Linked DNA regions of Homo sapiens: region 2 is linked to region 1. Evidence: fine-mapped expression QTL. A gene starts in region 1. The other region holds a variant in brackets. All regions are shown on one strand. Distances are from middle to middle.

Evidence for each region. PIP is the estimated chance that this variant, and not a neighbour inherited with it, causes the effect.
Region 2: its variant is fine-mapped to the expression of TSEN2 in visceral fat (GTEx, PIP 0.99).

What each region holds. Positions count from the first base shown.
Region 1 is chr3:12,480,659-12,488,995 of GRCh38, reverse strand. TSEN2 (tRNA splicing endonuclease subunit 2) reads right to left here and starts at 4,516. Exons shown (of 12, transcript NM_025265.4): 1 at 4,116-4,516. RefSeq lists an enhancer at 4,173-4,592.
Region 2 is chr3:12,427,045-12,435,381 of GRCh38, reverse strand. It overlaps PPARG (peroxisome proliferator activated receptor gamma), which reads right to left. Exons shown (of 8, transcript NM_138711.6): 8 at 1,038-1,484. The coding sequence ends at 1,237. Among named protein-coding and RNA genes, the nearest start is that of TSEN2, 53 kb to the left of the region's middle. The variant T/C (reference allele first, on the strand shown) is at 3,836.

The sequences.
Region 1 (8,337 bases):
GTGTACCATTCATGTATCAGCTATAATTAGTATTACAGGGTGAGCAGTAGCAACACCATTTTACAAATAGGAAACAGATTCAGGTTAGAGAGATTTGTAGACGACCCCGAGTGTGGTGGCATCGGGTGACCCAGGTCTGTTGAACTCCCAAGCCCATGCCCTCTCTCTAGATTCTGCTGAAAGCACAGGCAGGGTCTATCTACTTTTGTCTGATGACTCTTTCTCAAAATCAGACGGTGAAGGGTTATTGAGCAGTAACGGAATTACCCACTGTGCACCCAGCACCATGAGGGAGAACAGAAAGCCAAAGCCAGTACGTGTCCCTCTGGGGCCATACATTGGATCCAAGGAGACAAAACAAGTATATAACATAGCTGGAAGCACAGAAAGCAGGTTGGAGCTAACGGAACTGGCTGTTATCCACTAATGTCTAAAGGAGGGAAGTAAATGTGAACATATTGTGTGATGCAGACACAGAGATACAGTAGATGCACTTAACCTAGGAAAACGTAACCATATACATGGGAAAACAATGTAAATGGTGCAAGACATTCCACTCGAGGAGCAGCTGTCCTGGAATGAGATGGGAAACTTGAATCTGCTGCTCCCCCAGTACTAGGTCTAGACTTGATTTCAACTGAGAGCTTACCTGGTGCTTGAAGATACAGTGCGGCCAAATCATACACACGTTTAACCTACATGACTCCGAATCCTCACAAGGGAAAAAATAAGACTAATTACTTAGGTGGCTCCTGCACTCAGTACTTGCATCCCATTGGCAAGGGATGCCATCAAGCCTGAAACAGTCAAGAAGGTGGCCAAAACTGAGGGAGGGGAAGGTGAGTGGCTTTAAGAGTGTCATGACCATTAAGAAAAGGCTTATCCAACGTGTGATGATATCAGTATCCAACTTCTCAAGGAAGAAGCTGAGGAATTATATGAGGACACAGAAAAACACAGACTAAAGAGGAGTTAGAGGAAATGATACATCAATTACAAAGATAACCATGAAAAAGAAGAATCGGGAAGTTGGAACCTTCCTAGAATTGCCATTGTTCTAAGCAGCAACATGCTAGATTAATTTCTAAATAAGGTTCCTTGAAGGAATTACATACTGAGCATTACTTTGTACATTTTATATTTATGCATGCATCTTGCTGTATAGTGTTTATAACAAAACCACGTCTACTGCATGCTCACAGGAAACCTAAGAGATTTTCTTAAGAGCATATTTAGACTAGGCTTTACCTTGCTTGCTGACTTATCCCTCAGCCCAAGTACTAAATTATCACATTTAGTACTCAATTGGAGAGACAATAATTTATTCTAAAACTGAAAATAAACACTGCTTTTTGGGGGCAGGATGTTGGTCTCTAGTAAGGCACTTTTTGAAAGACTTCCAGGAATGGTTTGGACTTTTATGGGATTTTTCACTTTTATAACCTCTGCTCAGCAGCTGACTTATATACATTACATTCGGAATTTTAAAAAAATGAAAAAAGATTTAATGGCCACCTTCAAGAAGTTCTAATAAATTCTCTCAACAAATAAGAGTTGTATTTTAGTCTGCCTCATTTGTTCAGCGTTTTTCCCTCTCAGACTGCTGTCACATCTAAAAAAGGCAAGATTTAGCTGTGACACTTGATCGAAAGAACTCTGTACTCCAACCCAGGTGTGTGGGATGGAAGGGTCCCTGCGACAAAACACCCCTCATAATCCAAGTTCTTGTGTTACTCTTGCTCATGTGGCTGCACACCCCTCAGGAATTTGGCTCGCAGTAGGCCTTCCAGACATGCAAAGCCGCCATTATTATTGTGTGACCTTGCACAACCCACTTTCTCTAAGCCCAGTTTCATCTTCAAATCGAACAGGACTGGAGGAGTCTGGCAGTTCCTCAAAATGTCAAACACATAGTTACGACATGATCCAGCAACTCCACCCCTAGGTATAGACCTAAGAGAAATGAAAACATATGTTCATGGAAAAATTTGTATGTGAATGTTCACAACAGTATTATTCATAATAGCATCAAAGTGGAAGCCATCCAAATGTCCATCAATAGTTGACCAGATCAACAAAATGTGGTCTATCCATATAATCAAATACTTAGCCATAGAAAAGGAATGAAGTTCGGATACATTCTTCAACACCTGAAAGCATTATGCTAAAAGAAGTCAGACACAAAAGACCACGAGACAATTAAGATAAAGTTTCCGGAATAGACAAATCCATAGAGACAGATTACCAGTTGCCAGAGACAGGGAAAAGTGGGAAATGGGGGGGCGACTGCTAATAAGACAGGAGGTTTATTTTGGAGGGTGACGAAAATGTTTTAAAATTAGATTGTAGTGATGGTAATGGTTACATAACTCCGCGAATACGAAGACCACTGACTCGTACATTTCAGAAGGGTGACTTTTACAGAATTATATGGTATCTCAATAAAGCTATTTTAAAAAATTCAGAAGTAAAGACATTCCCCAGGCCATGTCCTGCAAGAATGACTTCACAGATACCAGCGTGAAGCTTCTAGAAAAGATAGAAAGAAACCCTCAGGGAAGGTAGAGCTCACTTCCCCAGGGGGAAAAATTCAAGAGGACAAATCAGATGATCTCTAGTTTCATGGAAGAGTCCTCCTGTGCTGAACTCGAAAGGCAAAGCAGAGGAGAAAAGACTGCATTTACCATTCCCCATATCTGCAATGGATATTCAAGAAGGTTCTTTAGTGTCGCGGCAGAACAGCATGCTGTAAGAGGTGGGATGTGAGTAAAATAAGAAGAGGAAACTGTCATAGGTAGGTACCAGATGCCAGAGGCACTCACTGCATGTGCTGCACATGTGGGTACTATAGTCATCCCTTGGTATCCACAGAAGGACTGGTTCCAGGACTCACCCCCTACCAAAATCCGCAGCTCAAGTCCCTTAAATAAAATGTAGTATTTGCATGTAACTTATGCCCATCCTCCCATCTACTTTAAGTCTTCTCTAGATTACTTAGAATACCTAATACAATGTAAATACTAAATAATTGTTATATATATATATTTTTAAATTTCTTTTTCCAAATATTTTTGATGCAACATTGGTTGAATCCACAGATTCGGAACCTGATAGCGAGAGCTGACTGTACTATCCTCATTCCACAGATATGAAAGAAGAGCGGTGCCTGAGGTGCACAAAAACATATAGGAAAGACTGGGTCAGTTGTCAAGAGGTTTGGGATGCAAAGGTTGGTTTGGAATTGGAGTCACTGCAGGTTATTTAGAATGATGATTGAAAAATGCAGATTAAGAAAATTAAACCTGGGAGTGGTACATCACACAGTGGCCCTCAAGCTTACCTACCCTTAACTCCTCATGCCCAGGCCTCACCTGCAATCAATTACATCAGAATTTCCTGGGTGGACCCAGCTGATTTTAACATATAGCTAACCACTGGTAACAGCAAGGTCTATTCAAATTCACTTAATCCCAGTAGCCCCCGGAGGTAAAGACTATTTTTATTTCCATTGTACAGATGTGGAAAGTGACTCGGAGGGGCCGGGCGCACCCCTGAGAAATCTTTACTTCTTATTTCCCCAACCTGCGCAACCTGACTCCAGAGCTGCATATTCTTACTTTCTATTAAAAGCAGAGTCTGTTTCTTATTCTTCCCTCGAGCACACAGGCTAACACCTCTTAGGTGATGGTAAATGTCTATTAGAAAAACAAAAAAGGGAGAGGTGGCTCCATTTAATTTTCCAACCTTCCTGGACTAGGTGCCAAACAAACCTGGTTAAAAAACCTCCTACCCAGCAAATCTCACCTTCTCCCAACCAAAACACGCTTCAAGCTCCATCTGCGCACCTCCTGGGCTTAGGGAGGCAAGGATGAAAGGCACAAGGTAAACAATCCTGCCTCTGGGGAGCTTTCAAGTTAGAACCTGAGAATAAGCCATATAAACAGATGACCAGCCTTTGAAAGTTGTTGTCAGGATTAAATGCATAATTTTGCAGAAGGCGTTTCGTTCGGGGCCTACCACGTGGAAAGCGCTCACCAGACGACAGCTGCAAATAAAATAAACTGCGCACCCCAACAGCGTTAGGGGCCCCGCCAATTCCTAACTCCCTGTCTTACCCCTTTGCTTCTTTCCTTGACTACCCCCACACCCGACCGAACTCCACCAGAGGCTGCGGCTCCTCTCGGGCATTGTCAGCTGCACCTTGCGCCCCAGCCCCACCAGCCCTGAACAAGGCGCCGGCGTTTCCAAGAACCAAGGGCTGCAGGCGCACGAGGAAAGCGCGGAGGAGTCAGTGACCGGGCGCACTCGGAAGCCTGGCTCCCCGTCCCGGCACTGTCTCGGCCGGCTGTGCGACCCCAGCACAGTACCTAGGCCCTTTCCTCTCTCGCCCTGGAGGACTTTCGGAAGAGCGAGATTTCCTTTCGCTGCAAAACACCAAACTCGGAAAGGGCCGCGCTTTCCTCGCCCAGGGCCCTTACCTTTCTTGGCCCCACGCGCTCGCCGTTACCCCGGCAACGCCGGCCGTGGGGCGGACACCGCTGCCGTCAAGCAGTGCGGCCGCAAAGCCAGCCGAGTGCGCAGCCGCAGAGCTCCCGTCGGGACTTGGCGGAGTGCGCCTGCGCACGGCCGGCTGGCGGGTGTTCTGTGCGCCAGCTCTGCCACTGCGGAGTATGAGGCGGAGGCTGCGTGCGCGCTTTGCTGCTCTCTGCAGGATTGTACGGAAGCCAGAACGATCCTGCAAGACGCATTTTACAGATGAGATGCAGTTACCCGTCAAATGTCACATAGTCACGTGGGAGGTGGGAGAGACCTAGAATCTTCGGCCCTCGGTGGATGGGATGTTTGAGGCGACCGACAGGACTTTATTAAATGGCCCTGAGGAAACTGATCTCATCTTTCTCAATGTAGAAAGAGGATCACAGCAGCGCACCTGTGTACGCTGCAGCATGCGGGGAACTTGCAAGGACGTTTTCTCTGGCAGACACCTGGCCAGAAGCCTCTGTGTGCCCAGACTGCCTGTGCAGTTAAGGGACAATAGGCGGCAGGTCCACCTGCTCTGCATCCCCATTTTCCCCCCTCACTGGCTGCGTGAGCTTGAATGACTGACAACCTTTCTGAGCTTGAGTTTACTGAAAAATGGGCCATCAGAATTACGGGAGATGAGCAAAACTGGAGTGCAATAGGAAGTGTAAGTTTCTCCTGACCTGGTTATTTTAAAGGAGCCCTGTGGGGAGTCCAATATATACTTTCCCAAATATGAATCACAGGAGTTCCACCACACAGACTAAGCAGGAGGCAAAGGAGGATGGCAAGGAAGTGTGGCAAATACTGCTGGAGAGATTCATGGTGCTAGATGTGATGATGGATGTTGAATTTTGGACTTCTGCCAATGTTCTTGCCTCCATTCCTTCACGCATGCTGTTGCCTCTATGTTCCCTCCCCTCTGTTAGCTGCAGTAATTCCTGGTCAGCCTTTAGGTCTCAGCTCAAATATCACCTCTTCCAGGAGACTTCTTGCCTTCCCAGACCTGCTTGGGTGACTTGCCTCTGTGCTCTGCAGTAGTCTGGCATGGCATGTGTTGTCCCTGTTTTTCTGGCCCTTTTTATTTTTTGAGACGGAGCCTGGCTCTGTCGCCCAGGCTGGAATGCAGTGGCACCATCTCAGCTCACTTACCTCACTGCAATCTCTGCCTCCCAGGTTCAGGTGATTCTCCTGCCTCAGCCTCCCGAGTAGCTCGGATTACAGGCGCCTGCCACCACGCCCGGCTGATTGTTATATTTTTAGTAGAAACGGGGTTTCACCACGTTGGCCAGGCTGGTCTCAAACTCCTGACCTCAAGCGATCCTCCCGCCTCGGCCTCCCAAAGTGCTGGGATTACAGGCTTGAGCCACTGCATCCTGCCTGGCCCTTTTTGAACTGCACTGTGGGCTTGCTCTTGGTAGAGTGAGATCATGTCGCAGCATTCAGTGGGTCCTCTGCTGCAAGGACCTTCACTGCTAGGCTAGGGAGTTCAGGTTTTAGATAAACCAAAATCAAAGAGCTTTGTGGTAAGAATGTTGCAAAAGAAAGGGAGAAAATTGGCAAGAGTCACAGGATATGGTAACAGGATGGATTGGGCAGGGGAGAGACAGCTGAAGAGAGGCTGTAATATCCGACCAGAACATGCCAATTTAAGAAATACTGGTTTTAGAATTAGAGGGCTTTAACAATGAAAGGGATTCAGAGGTTGTCCAGTTAAACTTCCTTATTTAACTGATAAGAAAACAGTTCCAGTGGCACTGTGAGTTGTCAGAGATAACCGAGCAGGTCTGAGGTGGGGCTGAGACTAGAGCCAGGTCTCTTAAATCCCATCCCAGCTCGTGGAAGGATTTGGGGTTTGCTGATAATGGGATCTCAAATTCCCCTCCCAAAAACATAAAAAAAGAAATTAAAAAAAGAAAAAAAATCTGTAAATTTTAAAAAAGAAAGAAATTTTCCCCAAGACTTTCTCAAGTGCATTTTAAACCCTTTGATATGGTTATTTTCAAACATACAACACAAAAGTAGAGAAAACAGTCCAATAAATCATCACTTCTGGCCGGGCACGGTGGCTCATGCCTGTAATCCCAGCACTTTGGGAGGCTGAGGCGGGTGGATCACCTGAGGTTGGGAGTTCGAGACCAGCCTGACCAACATGGAGAAACCCCATCTCTACTAAAAATACAAAATTAGCTGGACATGGTGGTGCATGCCTATAATCCCAGCTACCCTGGAGGCTGAGGCAAGAGAATTGCTTGAACCGGGGAGGTGGAGGTTGTGGTGAGTCGGGATTGCACCATTGCCCTCCAGCCTAGGCAACAAGAGTAAAAACTCTGTCTCAAAAATAAAAAATCGCTTCTACAACCTTCAACCTTTGGTATCTCATTTCTTTTGCATTCTCGATATACACACTTTTATCTCCTTGCTGGAGTATTTTAAAACAATCCCAGACATGATATAACTTCATCCATGATATTTCAGTAGGTATCTCTAATAGATAAGGACTTAATTTTATTACAATACATCTGCATCTACATATATATATATATATATACGCAGACACACACACACACACACACATATATCAACTGTGTAGTTCATTCTCATTATTTGAGGTAATTCTGTTCTATAAAGTTGCCACAAACACTGAATTAGTAAATACTGAACCATGTTTCCAGGAGAAATACAAGATACAAGGTTAGGTGTCTGTGAGTCTCTGGTCACAGCATTTTCATCAACTGGTCAATATATAACCTCACTTCATGTGTTTCTGTTTAAAGACACCTTACATATGTTGATTCATCAACACTGAACTCGCAGCCAACAGCACTATAACTCCTGCCTAAAGGAGGCTTATCTAACACACCTATTCTCTCCAATAAGGCACATTTCTTGGGTGGGGAACACCAGACAGCACTTCAGCACTCCACTTGGGGCCATTTTAAACAGTTAAATCACCAACAAAAAGCACAAAAATGTGAAAAACATGGCACAAACTAGAGCTCAAAAAAGCATACTTATTTATGGTATGAGAGCTGAAACAAGAAGGCAGAGTCTCCTTGTTCACCTGCAGCTGGGAATGTGCACACTGTGTGACTCAAATTTTTTGGTATTCTGTGCATGCACACATCTGCAGATGACTGTGACAGTGAAGTATTGATTGTGATGTTACCAATAAGTTTTAGCAACTAGGTGAGTTTGTAAATACAGAATCCAAGAGTAGGGAGGATGGACTATATCAACATATCCCCAGTATCACTAGCACATCTAACACAATGAACAGTTATCGGTGAAATGTGCCCAGAACCTCCAAGTAATATTTGGGATATACTTAAGAAAAAAGTTTATCTGAAATTCAAGTTAATCTGGGTGCCTCACATTTTATCTGGCCACCCTAGTGACAATTTATTGGGCACTTACTATGTGCCAGCCACTTTTGCATCCATGATCTTATTTAATTCTCATAACAGGGCTGTGAGATTGGTGTTCTTACCTCTCTTCTGCAGCCAAGGTTACCGCACATGCCCATGGTGTCATTGCTAGGAAGTAGTGAAGGCCAGATGAGGATACGGATCTACGGGGCTTATGCTCTTTTAATCTGTCATGCTGGATACAGGAGGGCAATGCATTAACAAAACATGACAGGCCGGGCGCGGTGACTTATGCCTGTAATCCCAGAACTCTGGGAGGCCGAGGTGGGTTGATCACCTGAGGGTGGGAGTTCAAGACCAGCCTGGCCAACATGGCAAAACCCCGTCTCTACTAAAAAAAATATATAAAAATTAGCTGGGCATGGTGATGCGCCTGTAATCCCAGCTA
Region 2 (8,337 bases), 54 kb after region 1:
TCTACCTATTCCAGTCTAACACTTCCCTGAGGCCCTCTTCAGCAAATCCACAGATTCAGTCTCTGGGATTCCAATCTTCACTCATCTTACTTCCTACAAACTCTTACCATTCACCTGGCATGTGATTTCATCTGCGTATTTGAATCTGTATGAAAAAAGATTAATCTTTTCTCCTCAGTTTATAATCGGTAAATTCTTTTTGGCAGGTGTCAAATCTTTTTTATCTTTTTTTAGAGACAGGGTCTCACTCTGTGGCCCAGGCTGGAATACAGTGGCATCATCACAGCTCACTGCAGCCTCAACTCCCAGGCTCAAGCAATCCTCCCGCCTCAGCCTGCGAGTAGCTGGGACTACAGGTGTGTGCCACCACACATGGCTAATATTTAAAACTGTTGTGGAGACAGGGTCTCGAACAAGAGACCAGCTCAATCGATCCATCCACCTTGGCCTCCTAACGTGCGTGGATTAAAGGCTTGAGACACCATGCCTGGCGCAGATACCAAATCTTAAAAAAGTTCTGTGTTCCCCAGAGTTTCTAGCAGTGCTCAGTTGCTGGCCACTGGCTCTGTGGGTGCGCAGTGGCATTGATTAGTAGGTAGTATACGAGTAGGCTGCTGGTGGTGCGTGAAAATCTCGGTTAGGATTGTGGAAGAAGACTGAATTCTGGGTAATCCCAGGGATATGCTGCATATCAGCACATCCAGGCTACAAAACACATGCTCTGAGCAGTTTCTGATTCTGAAGTTCCCCTTCCCTTCTTAGTTCTGATTGTTAAAGCAGATGCAGAGTTCCGAAAAGTTGTAAATTGAGTAAAAAATTAATTTACTGAGAATGAAAGTGTATCAGCAGTTCCACTCACATATTTTAAAATGTCTAAGAAAGAAAAGAAAAATAAAGGAAGAAGGAAAGGAGGGAAGGGAGGGAGGAAGAGTGAGAGGGATGGAGGGAGGGAGGGGAGAAGGAAAAGGGGTAAAAAAGAAAGCCTGGGGGCTAGGGTGGGAAACACACAAGACTCAGTCTTCAAATACTATCAGCAATTTCATAATATGGTAATTTTTAATATTAAAAGTAAATTGTAAATGTGTCTTTATAAACAATATGCATAAAATAGATCATATTCTAAAACCTTTTCTTTTTAAAATGCTTTTTCACAGTAAATTTCTTAGGTGTCAGATTTTCCCTCAGAATAGTGCAACTGGAAGAAGGGAAATGTTGGCAGTGGCTCAGGACTCTCTGCTAGTACAAGTCCTTGTAGATCTCCTGCAGGAGCGGGTGAAGACTCATGTCTGTCTCCGTCTTCTTGATCACCTGCAGTAGCTGCACGTGTTCCGTGACAATCTGTCTGAGGTCTGTCATTTTCTGGAGCAGCTTGGCAAACAGCTGTGAGGACTCAGGGTGGTTCAGCTTCAGCTGGAGCTCCAGGGCTTGTAGCAGGTTGTCTTGAATGTCTTCAATGGGCTTCACATTCAGCAAACCTGGGCGGTCTGGGGAAGCACATATGGAAAACACAACAGGGGGTTCAGTCAAAAAATCCTCTGGGCCCCGCCTTGGAGGCCTAGGCAGCTCTACCAAGCAACTCATCTGTATTTTTGGTTTGTTTTGCTTTGTATCTTAAATAGGTGGGGAGGAAGGGTAAGCAGATAATGGGTAAGAACTAAGGATGGAATCAGAACCAAAATGATCAGAGCTCTTTGCAGGGCCTTTTTCTGGCCAGGATGTAATCTGTGTGGTCAGCTGAGGGAGCATGGCATCAAAACAATCCTGTTCCCCAAATGAAGTTTCCTCTGCTAACGTGTTTCTACTCAGAAATCTCCTTTTCTTTTCTTTTCTTTTTTTTTTTTTTTGAGATGGAGTCTTGCTCTGTCATCCAGGCTGGAGTGCAGTGGCATGACGTCGGCTCACTACAACCTATGCCTCCCGGGATCAAGCTATTCTCCTGCCTCAGCCTCCTGAGTAGCTGGGATGATAGGTGCTCACCACCACGCCTTTCTAATTTTTGTATTTTTAGTAGAGATAGGGTTTCACCATGTTGGCCAGGCTTGTCTCAAACTCCTGACCTCAAGTGATCCACCCGCCTTGGCCTCCCAAAGTGCTGGGATTACAGGCATGAGCCACTGTGCCCAGCCAGAAATCTCCTTTTCAACTTCTGCTCCTTCCTGATGAATCTACGTTTTATAGCTTCTACTCAGTTTCTTATCATAGCTTCAAATATGCTTTTTTCACAAATATGCTTTTAAAAAAAGGTTTGTCTTTTTGCTTAATTTGCTTATGCTATGTTTGCTTAATATGGCATATTTCCAAAGGACAAAACACAGTTTTAAAATACTGATACATTTTAACAGAGGTTTCTTTTCAGTGGTAAGATTGCAAGCAATTTTCACTAGTTCTTCTTTAGATTTTTCTTTAGTTCAATTTGCAAATGGTGAACTTAAATTACTTTTAAGCAGTTTACTTTTTTCTTTATGTAGATCTTGTTAGATTTATTCTCAAATACTTTATAGCTTCTATTGTGAATGGACCCTTCATTTTCATTACATCTAATATATCCCCACTGATGTGCAGAAAACTAATTGATTTTAGTATATTGAAACAATTCCAATTTTCTGAACTTTTATCAGTTCAAATAGCTTTTAATCATGGATTTCTACTTTTTTTGGATAGATAATTATATCAGCAATGGTAGCTTTATTTATTTCTTCTTTTGCAGCATTAACCTTTCTCATTTCCTCTTCTTGCCATAGTGTGTTGGCTAAAACCTCCAATATGGGATTAAATAATAGTAGCAATAGTAGCAATTCTTGTTTTATTCCTAACTTTGAAGGAAATGCTTCTAATGGTTTATCAGCAACTATGATGTTTGCTATAGATTATGGAGAACATGTTTTACTCCTGGCTTTCCAGGGGTTTTACAATTTTAATTTGTTTTAGTCAGGAATGTTGTTGAATTTTTATCAAATACTTTTACATTTTTCTATCTAAAGAGCTATGATATCTGAAGAGTTATGGTTTTATCTTAACCTAGCACAGTGAATTACATTAATAGAGTTCCTTATACTCTTGTACTCACTTGCTAATATTTTATATAGAGTTTTTGTATTTGTAGGTGATACTGGTTTAGAGTTATTTTGGGGGCCATTCTTTGCCTGTTTTAGTAACAATGTTAACTAGCCTTATACACCAAGTTGAGAGGTTTGCCTTCTGTGTCAACGCAGTAATGATCTGTTCCCTGACGGTTTCTTAGAATTTGTTTGCAGAACCATCTGAGCTTGGTGATAAATCTATCACTATCTTTAATTTTTCTTCCATAGCTTTTATCTATTCAGGCTTTCTACTACTTATATGGTAAAGTTTTAGTAATTTATATTGGAATAAAGTTGTAGATGATATTGTCTTAGAATATGAAATGTATTATTTTTATTCACGCTCCTTAACTTAACGCTTTTTTTTTTGTGACAGAGTCTTAATCTGTTGCCCAGTGCAGTGGCATGATCATGGCTCACTGCAGCCTCCAACTCCTGGGTTCAGGTGATCCTCCTGCTTTAGCCTCCCAAGTAGCTGGGACTATAGGCATGAGCCGCCACACCCAACTAATTTCGAAATTTTTTGTAGAGGTGGGGTCTTGCTACGTAGCCCAGGCTGGTCTTAAACTCCTGGCCTCAACCAATCCTCCTGCCTCAGCCTCCCAAAGTGCTGGGAATATAGGCATGAGTCACCATGCCCAGCTCTTAGAGCTCTTTATTTGTGCATTCTCTCATTAAAAAAATCTGATTTGTCAAAGGTTTATCTATTTTTTGCTTTTTTAAAAAAGACATAGCTTTTGGTTTTATTAATCAAG[T/C]CTGTTTTTAAAAATTGTGTGTTTTGTTTTTAATTTATTGAATTCCTTTTTAAAACTTTCTTTAGGTTTACTTTCTTCTCTTTTTCTAGTTTTCTTGAGTTGAATGCTTAATTCATTTGATTTGGTATTCTTTGTATTCTAATAAATGCATTGAAGCCTCCACATTTTCTTCTTAGTGCCACTTTGGTTTCATCCCATGGGCTTTGATAAACGGTACTCTCATAGTTCTTTTCTAAACAGCTTGTCTTACAATTTTGATTTCATTTTTAACCTAAGAGTTATATAGAAGCATGTTTTTAAATTTCCAAGTAAAAAGTTTGGGTTTCAGTTTTTGTTTTCTAATCTCTAAGTTTTATTTTCTAATTTCTCAGTTTGTTGCCTTGGGTTAGATTATAAGGTTTTCTCAGTCAGGCTCATCAAGAAGACAGAACATTCACTTGATCATCTATCTCGTATTGATTTCAAATTTGAGCTCCTGAAGGCTATTTATTTTCTTTTAAAAACTGTAACTCTTCTCTCCTTCATGGTATGAGTTTTACCCACCTTTAATGTCCTTCATGACCTGGTCCTGGTCATCCTCTAGTCTCAGTTCTGTTTCATTTTGCTCCATGTTAAGCCATATTAATCTATTTCCATACCAAGTTCCTCAAACACCCTATGTTCTGTCAGGACTCTGCACTTATTCAGATTTTATTCTTCCTGCCTGAAACATTCTCACCTTCCCTTCACTCTTCTTATTGACTTCAACCATTTCTTCAAAATACAGCCTGTGGTGGGATTCCATCCTGAAATCCTTCCTCAACAGTATCCCTTCCTCTCTCCTGTTCATCTCATCTCCTTTCTCTGGGCCCTCATAGCACCCTATAAACACCTCAATCGCTACTATACTAGTAGATTACATTCACTGAATGGTTATTATTTTCCAAAGATCGTGCCAAGGGCCTTATATACGATATGCCATTTAATCTTCACAATAACCCCATGAGGTCATACTTTACAGAGGGAGAAATTAAGACTTAGAGAAAAGAGTTGCATCTTACCAAGATAGACCACTTGCTAGTAAATGCAGAGCTGACATTTGGATCTAAGTCTGTCTGGTTCCAAAGGCTCTGCTCTTATTCCTTATTATCTTGTATTGTAAGTTCTGACTTTCTTGTTTCTCCCCCGTTAGACCGTGAGGTATCAGAGGGCAGAGACTACGTTCTGAACCACCAGTGGAAACACAGGAAGCATTTGGTTGACTGAGTTAATGAGCGAGAAGGCTGTTCTGGCCAAGAGCCCTGGATCAAAAAGCACAATTCTCCTGGCTGGTGAACAGGCCTGAAGGCAGAATCCCTACACAATGAAGAAGTCTGTAAACGATGTTTTCCTGTGTCTAATAAACTCTAGTGACCTTTATCCATTGAGATAAGGCTCAAGAGAACAATGTGAGATGGCAGAGTGGTCTCAGAGTGGGATTTTCAGAACTCTAAATATTCTTCTAAGTTAACTTTCTTACTTTTCTTCCATTAAAGAAGGAAACTGGTCTTCAGTTTGATTTTTTCACTCTCAGGTCTCCAACATATCCCATTGACCAGAGTAAGTATAATTTTCTTTTTAGATTTCAGCATTCAATTTTGGAACCATCAGCAAAAGATCTCAGATTCTGAGAAGGAACAAATGATCTGGTCCTGGCCTGGAGAATTGGGCCCCTGGGAGCATGGGGTCTTCCTCGCAGTTGCTCTATGGGAATGAAAAAGCCACTGATGCTTCATTGAAGGCTGGGCCCCAGACTGGCACCTTGGTTTAATGACTACAGATCCTCCTGCTTGATGAATGTGTGCATCTCAAAGGCCAGAGGCAGACGTGCATCTAAAGACAGGTGCCGAGAGAGGCCCTCCTGGGCTGGGACCACTCAGCCTGGGCTAGGCCTCTGCTTACTAGACACTGGCTCCCGGAGCCTTTCTGCAGCTCCTCCTTCCTCCACCTGCTTCTTTTTTTTTTTTTTTTTTTTTGGTAGAGACAGAATCTCTACATTTTCCAGGCTGCTCTTGAATGCTGGGCTCAAGAGATTTGCCCTCCTCAGCCCCTCAAAGTGCTGGGATGACAAGCGGGAGCCACCGCTCCCAGCCTCCTCCTTCCTCTTGAGCAGCACCACTGGGGTCAGCCCTTGGGCTGAGGAGATGATGTTAATCTACTAGGTCCCGTTTATCATACAAACAAGGACTAACATGCAACTGATCAGGGCTTGCTGGAAACACTTGGCTCCGGTGCAGTGTCATGGAACTGGCCTCTCTAGGAGTGGAGAGGGATCTGGTTTGGATTTTCAAACCCCTCTTTGGCAAGTTATTCTTTATGATGTGATGGATGAAGCTTGGCTGAAGGGCTGAAATTTTGTGGCCACGGAGTAAGTATATTTTCTGCAATGACAAGTTAGATCATTTACAGATCAGTCCCATTGTCCCCCTGACTGAGCCTCCGTTAAGGCAAGATGGTTTAGGGAAGGAGGGCAGCAGAGAAAAGTTGCATATTCTACATCTAAAGCTTTCACTCACCAGCTCTGTGACCTTGGGCAAACTGATTAAGATCAATGGGCTCAATTTTCTTGTCTAAACAAAACAGACCGGACTAAATAGATAATCTCAAAGATTCTAATTCAAAAATTGTAAGATGTATTCTCATTTGTAATTCCCTCTACATAATTCAACTGGGGAAATATACTCAAACATCTAATTGAAAAAGCATATTAACATTAAACTTAGAACACCTGACTTACTTAAAAACAAGAACGCTTCCTTTGGTCTTTAAGCTCTAGTCAAGGGCAAAATGGATCTGCCAGGGTTGTTCCCTACCCTCCACCCTCCAACTGGTCACCAGCTCCCCACTAGTCTCTTTCCCCTTTCTGCTCCACGCACACTCAGTCCTTTACTGAGCTAAGCCAGGTGCCACAGTTGTGCCACAGAAATCCATCCAAATACCCAGACAGTGCCAGGGCCTTTCTCTTCTCTCTCCATTCCCAACAGCCTAGTGCCTGAAAAGGCACTGTTGCCAGGAGGCCCACCTGAGATCCTCTCCCTGCACCTTGCTGAGGTTACAGTTGAGTCTGGAGTAGGGCCAGGGCCAAGGGTCCTCTCTGCTGGGGTAGGCTGCTTAGAAGGCCCTTTTGGGAAGTGTGTGTGACTCAGACTCCAGGACTTAGCACTCGAGGAGGCTGGAGTCAATTACTAGTTCCCTACTCCCCAGGCTGTGAAGAATTGGGAAAGAAACCTTTCCGGTCTCCATCCACACGGTCCTGGAATTGATTACAGAGCACTGTGGATTATGGGCAAATCTACAAAGCTTCCATCTCGTCCAGATCTGGTACTGTTAAGTGGAGGGTTTATCTGAAGCAGATTCAAACGTTCTGGTCCTCTTGAGATCTGCCCACCTGGGCTGGGTGTTTCCCTAGCACAGATTTTCTCAGGAGGTGTCTCAATTAGGGAACCAGATGACCACAGTGGAGTCTCCTGAAGAAGAGGCAGAAAAAATGCAGGTGGTTTTGTCTCTATTCTAGGAGCTGCTCTCCTGGCTTTCTGCATCTTTCCCTATTGGCTCTCTGATAGAGACTAATCTGAAACCGACTGTCCCTAGGGCGTTCAAAACCAAAACAAACAAACAAACAAAACAAATGTGATTGCAGGGCAGCTGTAAATTGATCCACAGACAATGAAAGACCTTAGTTCAGGTGTGGGCTGAAAACTGGAGGGGAGGCAGGGCTACTTAGGGAACCCAGTACTTTGCAATTTAAGTTCCTTTTGCGCTTCCTCTCAAGTTTCCTTTATTGCACTGCTCCCTCAGTTCACAGGCATGTTCTAGGAGGCAGTGGATTGGGAAACTGAAGACTTGAGTCCTGTTTCTCTTCCACTTAGTTTCTGTGTGCCTGTGGACAAATCATCTAATCTTTCTGGGTTTAGGCTTAGTTTTCAAGACAATGACATTTCTTTCATAAGCGTATGGTGAGAATGAAATAGGTAGAGGAACTTTAGAACATATTATAATTCTTGTGTTTGTTCGAATAAAGGCAGTTTCCATGGGGTTGGGGTCAGGAGTGTAAGTAGGAGTGGGTGGCATATCAACAGTTATGAAATTGAAGGTTTTTGAGTTGTTCTTGGTTAGAGCAGAAATTCAGGAGCTCAAGAAAAATAATGCCTGATGCAGACACGTTTGGGGTTTCAGGCAAGTTCTCGTTCCTGTAGTTGAGTGCACATAGGCAAGGTGGTTTAAGAACAATAACAAAACAAAAAACCCACGGTGCCCCAATTCACTACTTCCTTGAAGAAATGATGCTGGGAATTTGAGGGTACTTTTCTGATCCAATTCAGCAAAGTATCATGGTGTGGCCTATAGCAATTCCTTCCCACCATCCTACCGATAGGAAAAAATTATTCAGCAAAGTTATACATGTGTCCTCTTAATATTTAAATTTGAATCGGAGCTTGGTCTAGTGCAGGGATTATCAATTTTGGCTACATATTAAAATTATC